3 linked regions of the Homo sapiens genome follow. The protein of the gene in region 1 interacts with the protein of each later gene in a pairwise test. Each region holds a gene or a part of one and is shown on either strand. Other genes may lie near its edges.

Region 1 (3,500 bases):
AGTAATTGACTCTGGGTCAGTTTGCCAACCACGAAACCCCAGCACAGCTTACTGTGCTTACGTGGCCAATTCCAATGTTTACGAGGTATATTAACTGAGCAACATCTTCTGTTTAAGTCAAATGTGGTAAGATATTTGTTATCATCTTGTACATATTAAATTCCTCATCAGAAAAAAGTTGGGATATTTATAGATAGTACATTCTGGTTAATAATGGAAGAGATCAGTTAATTAATGCCAAATCAGTTATTTAAAAACACCTGTTGGCTGCTTTTCTGTTACAACTTTGTCGGTAAGAGTTGATGAAATAACTTTTTTTTTCATAAAATGCTATGACAGACTGTACGTTAGGATATGATTATGTACATGCAAACAAATACCTACATAATTGACTAGGTGAAAAGTCAAATTTTTAAGCTAAAGATTTTCAATTATAAAAGCAATGTATGTTTATTTTGGAAAGGTTAAAACAGAAAAAGTATAAAGAACAAAGTCACCTGCACTACTACTAAAAACAAGAGATAACTGCTGTGAAGGTAACTTCCGTTCCATCTTTTTCAAAGTATGTATATATTTTTTAAAGAGGTAGCAGAATTATGCTTTGCTTTTTACTTGTTAGCTCACTAGTATTTCTCTACATTATTATTGACAGGATTACAGTACTACAGAAGCACATATGGTGGGTAACAGTCAATGAGAAGAGTGGGTCTCAATCATAGCTATACAGTAGAATCACTTGGGAAGCTTTAAAAAACCATGTCCTAGCTCCACCTCGTCTAATTACACCAGAATTTCAAAGGGTTCAGACAGGATCTCGGCTTTAAGTATCTAGGTAACTCTAAGGCACAGCCGGGGGTGAGAAGCACTGAAAAATATGAGTGAGCATTCCTGGCGTCCTACCGCCTACAAGTACCCACTCTGAATCTTTACAGAAGCTATAATTTGTGTTTCTTTAATTATAAGTATGGTTAGATATCTTTTTATAACTTTGACATTTGTATTTTTCCAAACTGTATCTATATCTATTTGGCGCTATTCCAAGTATTTTCATTATTATTATTATTTTTGATACGGAGTCTGGCTGTCACCCAGGCTGGAGTGCAGTGGCGCGATCTCTGCTCACTGCAAGCTCCGCCTCCCGGGTTCACGCCATTCTCCTGCCTCAGCCTCCCAAGTAGCTGGGACTAAAGGTACCCGCCACCACGCCCAGCTTTTTTTTTTTTTTTTGTATTTTTAGGGTTTTTTTTTGTTATTTTAGTAAAGATGAGGTTTCACCATGTTAGCCAGGATGGCCTCAATCTCCTGAACTCGTGAGCCGCCCACCTCAGCCTCCCAAAGTACTGGGATTACAGGCATGAGCCACTGTGCCCCACCTATCATTTCACTTTTAATAAGTCTCTGACATATTTGGGATTTCAGCACAGAGAGTGAGATGGGAACTCATCTTTTTTTCCCAAATGACTATCCAGTTATGCTACCAGCACAATTTATCCTTTTTATCAAAAGCTTGAATTTTCAAGGGTCTCTGGGGTCTACTTCTAGAATCTTTATTCTGTTCCACTGCAGTTTAACCACACAATGGAATGCTTTGCAATCATTAAAAGTCACTTAAAAAACTAATGGACGAACTATAATAAACTTGAAGATAACCTTGTTACTGAAGACATCAAATTATAAGAAAACTAGTTTTCTCTAAATTAGCTTATAAATTGAGTATTATCTCCAAAATATCTAACATACTAGCAAGACTTGTGTAATTTCAAACACTGATTCTAAAGTTCATTAGACGAAACAAGCATAGCAAAGAATATTTGACAGGCTGGGCGTGGTGGCTCACGCCTGTAATCCCAGCACTTTGGGAGGCTGAGGTGGGCGGATCACTTGAGGTCAGGAGTTCGAGACCAGCCTGGCCAACATGGTGAACCCCATCTCTACTAAAAATACAAAAATTAGCTGGGCATGGTGGTACGCACCCATCATCCCAGCTACTGGGGAGGCTGAGGCACGAGAATCGCTTGAGCCTCAGAGGTAGAGGTTGCAGTGAGCCAAGACTGAGCCACTGCACTCCAGCCTGGGTGACAGAGCAAGACTCGGTCTCGGAAAAAAAAAAAAAAATCCCACAAAAGAACAAAAAACTAATTACCCTAAGATATTTTTAAAAATGATAGCTTTTGGCAGTGCAGGGTGGCTCATGCCTGTAATCCCAGCACTTTGGGAGGCTGAGGTGGGTGGATCACATGAGATCAGGAGTTTGAGACCAGCCTAGCCAACATGGTGAAACCCGTCTCTACTAAAAATACAAAAATTAGCCGGGCATGGTGGCGGGTGCCTGTAGTCCCAGCTACTGGGTAGGCTGAGGCAGGAAAATCACTTGAACCTGTGGGAGGCAGAGGTTGCAGTGAGCCAAGAGCGTGCCGCTGCACTCCAGCCTGGGAGACAAAGTGAGACTCCATCTCAAAAAAAAAAAAAAAAAGCTTTTTAATAGCTATTGTATGAATTGTATGGTAATAAAAAGGAACAGAATAAGTGATAAATGGAATGAAAATCCAGAATCAAAACCCAAATAATGCAAGTGTGATAAAAGTGGCAATTCAAATCAATAAGGAAAAATGGATTATTCACTTTTATTCTAATCTAAATAAAATTAGATCCTTATTCAAACCAAAGCTACCAAAGTAATAAGAATTACATAAGTGTTTATTTTTAAGATCTTGGAAAAGGAAAGATCTTTCTAAACACAAAACCAAATTCACAGACCATTACAGAAAAAAGACTGGTATACTGAACTATAAACTTCAAATATAATGCACATAAGAATAGGCTGCCCTATTCTTTCCTGCAGCTTTTTATAATATATGGTCTGAGGAATGGTCAAATTCTAGTATATTTAGAAGTAGTTTTCCTTTAATTTCACATTTACACTGACCTTTGAAGTAGCAATTGGCGGAAGTTGCCACTCTGTGGGCTAATTGTCAGATGATGGGACAGGTAATTACACAGGCGAGCTCCCATATAAGAGAAATTTGGGATAGATGTGGCCTTTTAAAAAGAAGAAAAGTGTTATATGACATAGGTACATCATTATTAATGTAAATACTTAACAGCAACATTCTAAAGAAGAAAAAATTGACTCCCCAAACTGACCATATATACAAGTCTTTTGTCATTGTTAGGCTTAAGGAAATTAAATTCACTTTCCCTCCCAACCTTACAGCAAGAACCACAATAAGTACAAAAAAAAAAAAAAAAAGAAAAAACCCATCAGTTACCTGAGGCTACCAGAAAGCGAAGAGATAATGTCTCCTGATGCTAACCCATTTTTTGCAGAAAACCTGTACATGTCCTCAACTGCACAGTGACAATTATGAATGAGAATACTGCCAAACTGTTGACCAGTGGGGCTTCTTGGGGCAGGAAAGCACAGACTTTTTAGTGTTTGGCAGTCCAGGACAAGATTCCCTGGCATTTTGCTTCATGACTTTGGACATCAGTAAACCTCC
Region 2 (3,800 bases), on another chromosome or scaffold:
TTGCATGAATATAAGGATTCCATGCATCTTCTTGTTTCGTAGAATTGTCTTGGGGCTGCAGTTGATAAAGGAATCTACAATCAACTTTTTAACCCAGTCCAGAGTTGTTGTATGTACACTCGAGACCCAAAGGAAGGACAGAGAATTTTCCTCACCTCAGCCCAAAAGGAGGCTGGAATGCATGCTTGCCTGCCACAGTTTCCACTTACTTACCACCATCAGTCAGCAGGCTTTTAGGAGAGAATTGCACGTGTGATTTATTTGCAAATCCTTTCAGGTCCTGGAGGAGAGATACTTGGTACACAATGCACTTTGTCATCACGTGTCAACATCCCCTCAATGCAGGGAGCAGCACTACACGATGTAAAGGTGGAACTGGATTGTGCTGGGATCCTTCAATCAGCATTTCATTTAGAGCTGCAGCATTTGCAGAGCCATTTGCAATTGATGCCAGCCCCTTGGAGGGGGTCAGCGTGTAGAAGACAAAGGACAGCCATAAAGCCACTGAATGCAAACTTTATATTTACAGTCAGTAAGTTTATAAATATATATTACATTCTTACAATCTACAGTACATTCTACACGCAGATGGATTTGGAAGCGGGCAGCGGCTGCAGTATTCAACAGAACATGACACAGGTAAGAATGGAAAGAAATATGAGGACGTTACTGAAAGCAAAGGATTCTCATTGAAAAGGGGTGACAGCTTAATCACCCAACCAAACAAGGTAGGTAAGCTTGCGGACAGGAGCAGGTGACTTACTGGCTGCAGAAACCTCAGTCTCAAGAGCACCACAGTTGCAGGGGAGAGGGCTAAGGTTGGGAGGGTAAACTGGTGAAATTTACACACACATGATCTAAAGAGAATTCAATTCTATGGAGAGGAAGAAGGAGTAAAGACACACACTCAAAATTACAGAGATGAGATGGAGAGGAAGCAGGGAGAAGATAGGTTCAAAGGAGGAGAGAGATACAGAGACAGACACACAGAGAGACTGGAAAACAGACAACTGAAGAGCAGAGAGAGAGAGAAAATGACCAGAGGGAAAAATAGAAGATCAATTCAACAGCACGGCCTCTTCTGCCCACCACCCGCTGCCCCCGACCATCTTTTGCAGGATCCTATCTGGCTGGCAATCACCCAACACACCATTCTCTACCTTGGAGTGAGCGTGAGATGAGGCAGGAATTCTCTGATGTATCCTTGCCCCCATCTTCATAGGCTTCATAAGTGAAGGGATTCAGGGATATCCAGAGTCATGGCTGGTCTTAAGCAATGCTGAACCTTTCGGGGCTGACTGCAGGACCAAGTGCTTGCAAACCTGCATCTTCACCACATGCACTGATGCCCCTTATCCCTTCGCACCTCCAAGATGAAGAAGGTTTCTGTGCTGTCCGGTGTGTGTGAGGCTGGGCTTCCTGCTGGATCCACCACTTTCACACCCAGAACCCCCCCAACTCCACACGCCCTGCACGTTCCACACAGGCACCCCGATTTGTCTCAACAGCCTCGAGGCCACATCTTTGGACAGGAGATCTGCCATGAACAGTGAAAGACCCATCCCAAGTGGCCCTGTTTTCTTTCTAGTAAAGCAAGGGAATGTATATCCCCTGGTATGGAATTCACCGTGACTACCGCCCATGCCTAGAGACCAGCCTCTTCAAAGACGGACGGCGTGGGACATATGCCCAGGTTGCGGGGGGAGCTTCTCTACAGAATGTCACTTGGGAGTTGACACAAAACCCAGGGGGAGAAAAAAGACCCAGCAAATACTACAAACTGCCCTCTCCCTCCCCCACCCACAGGTGACCAACGGCTTTGGGGAGGATGGCAATGCAGTGGAGGAATAGAAATGGATACATTGTGAACTTGATATGAATCAAAAGAGCGTGGTTCTTTGAACCTGATTCAAATTCTATGCCCAGTATCCTTAGTTTACAAATAAAGAAGTACCCTGAAGGGCTCAGAGGATTTGCGTCCATGTGTTTGTCCTTGGCATGTAGTTACAAAGGTATTTGTGGCCTGTTAGCCCACATGTTCCCTTTCAGTCCTTGTCAGCCACTTCCTTGGCCTGTCCATGATCTGAGACAGCTCTGGCCCAGCCTTTGAGAGACAATGACTCACAATCATGCCTCCCACAGCTGACGGCGGCACTGGACTGCCTGTGATCGCGCTCACAGCAAGATGTGCTGCTCCAGTTTCGATGACACGCTTCCTCCCATTGATCCATGGATGCGATCCATGGATGCTCCACCTGAGTTGTACTTTTCTTCCATAGTCTGCAATATTGAATATTGGAGCCATGTGGATTTTACAATATCCAAATTGCTTTGATTCGAGAGAGAGAGGCTGTTCTTTCCTGGACGCTCTCAGACGCTCAGTGATTCAGAACTCGTTTTTGTTTCAAGTCTTAAAAATCTTGCCATGCATGATAAACCTCTTAAGCAAGACACTGTACTCTGGAATGTGTGCGTCGATGCGGACTCCAGGCCTCGCCGCCGAGCCGGGGTCATTGGCTGAGGCTGTATGGATAGTGTCATCCTTATTTTGTCCTGCTGCTTTGTTTCTCTTCCGGGGGCACCGTTGCTACACATCCTGGAATTAAAGGCTGAAAGGTGAGTGAGAACCAATGTCTGTGTGTGTCTGGCTTACACATTTTCATGTAACCTCTCCATGTAGTTGTGCAGCTCTTTGCAGTCCCCAGGGTCCAGATCCTGGCAGACCCACTTAATGTCATCCTCGCTACTCATCACGATGGAGTTCCTGGTGGGGTACTCGTCGTCTGAGGAGACGGCGGTGAAGGTGGTAAATTTTACCCTTTTCCTTTTTGAGGTAGGGGATGTTGGGGGCTCACTTTTCTGATCTTTCCCATCAATGATGATGGGTCCCAAAGGTTTGAACAGCTGCCCATTGATGCTTTTTTGGGAGTTTGTGCTGAGGAGATATTTACTTTCCTCGAAATCCATGCCCCTGTCAATGGCAGTGATTTGCTCATCTTGCGAGGAGGCAAAGTTGATGTGATTCTCCAACAGCTCTGTCCGGTTGCTTAACCCAACCCAGTCATGAGAGTGACTCATCCCTTCCTGCTCCTCGAAGGGAACCTGTTTGTGTCTGTATTTTAATGCAAAGGTCACACAGTTTATCAAGAAGACCAAAATGGCCAAACAGAAGACTCCCAACAAAGCATACATCCCAATTTCTAAGTCGCTCAGCCCTTTGGATGCCTGCATAAGGTCATTCCCATCCATTTCCCCATTGCTTCTGGGGAGGTCCACCTGGGCTGGGAAGCTGGTGAGGTCGCTGGGGATGGTCTGCAAGTGGCTGTTGTCATCTAAAAGGCTTTCCTGGCCTTTCTTCTTCTGCAGGATGGACCTGTCTGTCGTGGTGCCCCGTCCCTCCATGAGTCCCATAGAAGAACTGCCATAGTACTGTCCTTCCTGACTCCCCCATTCCTGCGAGGGTTTTTTGGGCCTTCTGTCACTGACATTGTTTTCCATGTGAACCCCTGCCCCTGTGTGTCTGCTGTCACTGGTGTTGGGGTTAGCATCGTTTTGGCCAAATTTAACTTTGATGTTTGCCGTTCCAACAGCTAACACACTCTTCCGCTTGGATTTCTGGCAGGATTCACTAATAACCATTTCCACCTTGACCAGGGTGCCTTGTCCTTCTGTTTCCGCAGCAATGATAGGCCACTTGAATTTGGGGTCTTGGTGGATGGAGACTACCTTCTCATCCAAAGATGTGGCCATCAAGGAGAAGTCTTTCCCATCGTAAATATCCAAGGGCGTGACTGAGCCAT
Region 3 (3,113 bases), on another chromosome or scaffold:
CATACCTATAGTCCCAGCTACTAGGGAGACAGGAGGGAGGATCACTTGAGTCCGGGAGGTCAAGGCTGCATAAACAACTATTGTGCCACTGCACTCCAACCTAGGCAGATCACACTTTTTTTTCTTGAAATAGAGTCTCACTCTGTTGCCCAGGGATTACAGGTGTGCACCACCATACCTGGCTAATTTTTTGTATTTTTTGTAGAGACGGGGTTTCACCACGTTGGCCAGGCTGGTCTTGAACTCCTGACCTGAAGTGATCCACCTGCCTCCGTCTCCCAAAGTGCTGGGATTACAGGCATGAGCCACCACACCTGGCCTTTTTTTTTTTTTTTTTTCCTTGAGACAGAGTCTCTCACTCTGTCGCCCAGGTGGGAGTGCAGTGGCACAATCTCAGCTAACTGCAACCTCCATCTCCCAGGTTCAAGCGATTCTCCTGCCTCAGCCTCCTGAGTAGCTGGGATTACGGGTGCATGCCACCACACCCAGCTACTTTTGGTATTTTTAGTAGAGACAGCGTTTTGCCATGTTGGCCAGGCTAGTCCTGAATTCCTGAGCTCAAGTGATCCATCGGCCTTGGCCTCTCAAGTGCTGGGATTACAGGCGTGAGCCACCGCACCCAGTGCCCCTCCTCCTTTTCTTTTTTTTTGAGACAGGGTCTCACTCTGTCACTCAGGCTGGAGTGCAGTGGCATGATCACAGCTCCTTGCAGCCTCAACCTCCTGGGCTCAAGCAGCGGTCCTCCCACCTCAGCATCCTGAGTAGCTGTGACTACAGGCACTCACCACCACACCCAGCTATTTTTTTTTTTTTTTTTTTTTTTTTGGTAGAGACAGTCTTGCTTTGTTGCCCAGGCTTATCTCAAACTCCTGGGCTCAAGCTATCCTCCTGCCTCAGCCTCCCAAAGTTCTGGAATTACAGGCATGAGCCACCTTGCACCTGGCCTCTTTTTTTTGTGTGTGTGAAATTCTAACAAACACCTCTAATGATTCTAACGCAGGTGGTCAGAATACAATCTTAGAAATGTGGGCACACACAGGAATAACTCACCTGCTAACTGACAGCATACATCTGGGTAAGCAGGTGCCCACCACCTCTCTCCAGGTGACTCATTTGCTAATTATAACAGCAATTCTCTCTTGCCATAGTGGAAGAATTTGAGCCAGGGCCATATTTCAAGCTGTCTGCCTCTAGCCTTCCTCACTCCACCCCACGACATGCACTTGCATGCGCACACACCTGCTCATAGGAGATGGGCGCCTGCTTCTGGTGGGACAGCTCCATCAGAGTACTCAGGTCTGTTCGCAGGTCTGTCTTGCAGCCAATGAGCAAAACGCGGGTGCTGGGACAATAATCTAGGATTTCTGTCCTCCACTGAGGGGTGGAGCAGGAAGAAGGGTAGGAGAAGGAGGAAGGAAGGAGAGTTAGTGGCAGACAGATACCAGGAGAAGCTTGGCTGGCAACGTCACACACATCACCTCACTCATCACCAGCCCAGTCCTCCCTCTGAGTCACAGCATCACCGTTGCACTAATTACATCATTTTCCTGCCCATGAGGCCTTTGGGGCCCCCAGAGTGCTGACCCAGGAGCCTGTTCCCCCAGTCTATGGCTCAGTCACCAGAGAGGGCACAAGGGCAATTCTCCTCCCACTCTCTGCCAACCATATAGGCATGGATCTGCCCCCTCACCCCAAAGGGCCTCACAAGTCCAGAATGCCAGGGGGAAGCCAACCAGTCTCTTCTCAAGGGAAGAACATGATCCCAGCATCTTCTATACTATGCTAGATACACAAGGTTTCCTAGGACTCCTCAGCATTGGTGGATCTGCCCAGACCTAAGCATTTCATACCAGCAGCTCAGCTCAGACCTGCCTGGCTTGCCCATTCTCAGTGGGACTGGGATCAGGGTCTATAGAAGCTGCCTCCAAAAGGTCCCATGCCTGACCCTCATACCGTATCACCTAAAGGTTCTCTGACTCTCCGTCCTCTGCTTCCTGAGTCTTCAATACCACCCTCCCTTGCGGGGCCTCTGGCAAGGCAGCATGGGATAACAAAAAGGGCGGGAGGCAGTGGGGTAAGGAGACCCAAGTTCCAGTCCCAGAGCTGTAGCTAATGGTGTGGCCTTGGGCAAATCTCTTCCTTCCCTGGCTTCCATTTCTTGATGTTATACAAGAGGGCATTCATGACAAGGTCCCGATTCCTTCTTGGTCCTCATGCTGAGTTAGAGATTAGAGAGTTGATCTAGTCTTACCTTCTTGAGTGCGCTGTCCACTGTCTCTGGACGGCTGATGTCAAAACATAGTAATACTGCATCCGAGTCGCTGTAGCAGAGTGGACGGACATTATCGTAGTAGGGAGATCCTGGTGTAGGCCAGAAAGAGCTGATGGTGAGCCATGGTGTTTTCCTTCCCCAATAGGCCTAAGCCCTAAAGCCCTGGGAATACCATCCTCAATCCCTGAGGATCCACCCATCTCCCAGGGGGAATGTACTGCGGCTGGAAGCTTGGGACCTGACTGTCTGCCAGAAGGTCATGAAAGAATATCATCCCCCTTAGTCCAGAAAAAGGGAAAGAAGACAAAATAAAGTGGGTGGAGTATAATTTGGCCCTGTTTGGGTCTCCTACAGCAGGCTTAATTGGAGATCTACTAGTTTTCTGAGTCCCAGAAGATGCTTCCAGCCCTGCAGAGAGACAGCACTTATTTCAGGGCTTCTCTCTTCTAGAGCCTGCCTGCTGCCCAACTTCACTCCCTTCTGCTCCAGGGTCTCCCCAGTGAAGAGAAAAACCTCCTTGTTACATAACCTGCCTGCTGCTTTTCCATGGGGTCAGAACTTTAGGAGGCTAGCAGGGGAGGGAGAGAATCAAGGGTTCAGTGCCCCACTTCTCCACCCACCCAGATCGGCTTACACTGAAAAGGGCAAAAGGAAAGCTGTACCTCCTGACCGCCCCACATCTCAGGAAGGCAGTCTCAAAGACAGCAGCACCGATGGCTGGGGATTTAGAGGCTAGAGCAAGAGTCCTTCGTTGGAAGGGAAATAGGCAATGCAGACCCAGGTGGTCCCATATGGGAGAATGCTAGGAGCTGAGCCTGCCCCCTCCACCCTGGGGAAGGAG

The links. The genes of interacting proteins can lie anywhere in the genome.
Region 2: the proteins of PAIP1 (region 1) and TMEM132D interact in a two-hybrid assay, tested with the Homo sapiens proteins (one large-scale study listed by BioGRID).
Region 3: the proteins of PAIP1 (region 1) and RND1 interact in a two-hybrid assay, tested with the Homo sapiens proteins (one large-scale study listed by BioGRID).

The regions. Positions count from the first base shown.
Region 1 is NC_000005.10:43,540,078-43,543,577, forward strand, and holds part of PAIP1 (polyadenylate-binding protein-interacting protein 1), read right to left. Parts: intron 3,040-3,500; coding exon 2,927-3,039; intron 1-2,926. UniProt on the Homo sapiens protein: Acts as a coactivator in the regulation of translation initiation of poly(A)-containing mRNAs. Its stimulatory activity on translation is mediated via its action on PABPC1. Competes with PAIP2 for binding to PABPC1.
Region 2 is NC_000012.12:129,071,226-129,075,025, forward strand, and holds the end of TMEM132D (transmembrane protein 132D precursor), read right to left. Parts: coding exon 2,650-3,800; 3' UTR 501-2,649; downstream 1-500. UniProt on the Homo sapiens protein: Regulate neuronals morphology via inhibition of the WAVE regulatory complex (WCR), a complex that controls F-actin cytoskeletal dynamics.
Region 3 is NC_000012.12:48,859,758-48,862,870, forward strand, and holds part of RND1 (rho-related GTP-binding protein Rho6 precursor), read right to left. Parts: intron 2,362-3,113; coding exon 2,252-2,361; intron 1,375-2,251; coding exon 1,240-1,374; intron 1-1,239. UniProt on the Homo sapiens protein: Lacks intrinsic GTPase activity. Has a low affinity for GDP, and constitutively binds GTP. Controls rearrangements of the actin cytoskeleton. Induces the Rac-dependent neuritic process formation in part by disruption of the cortical actin filaments.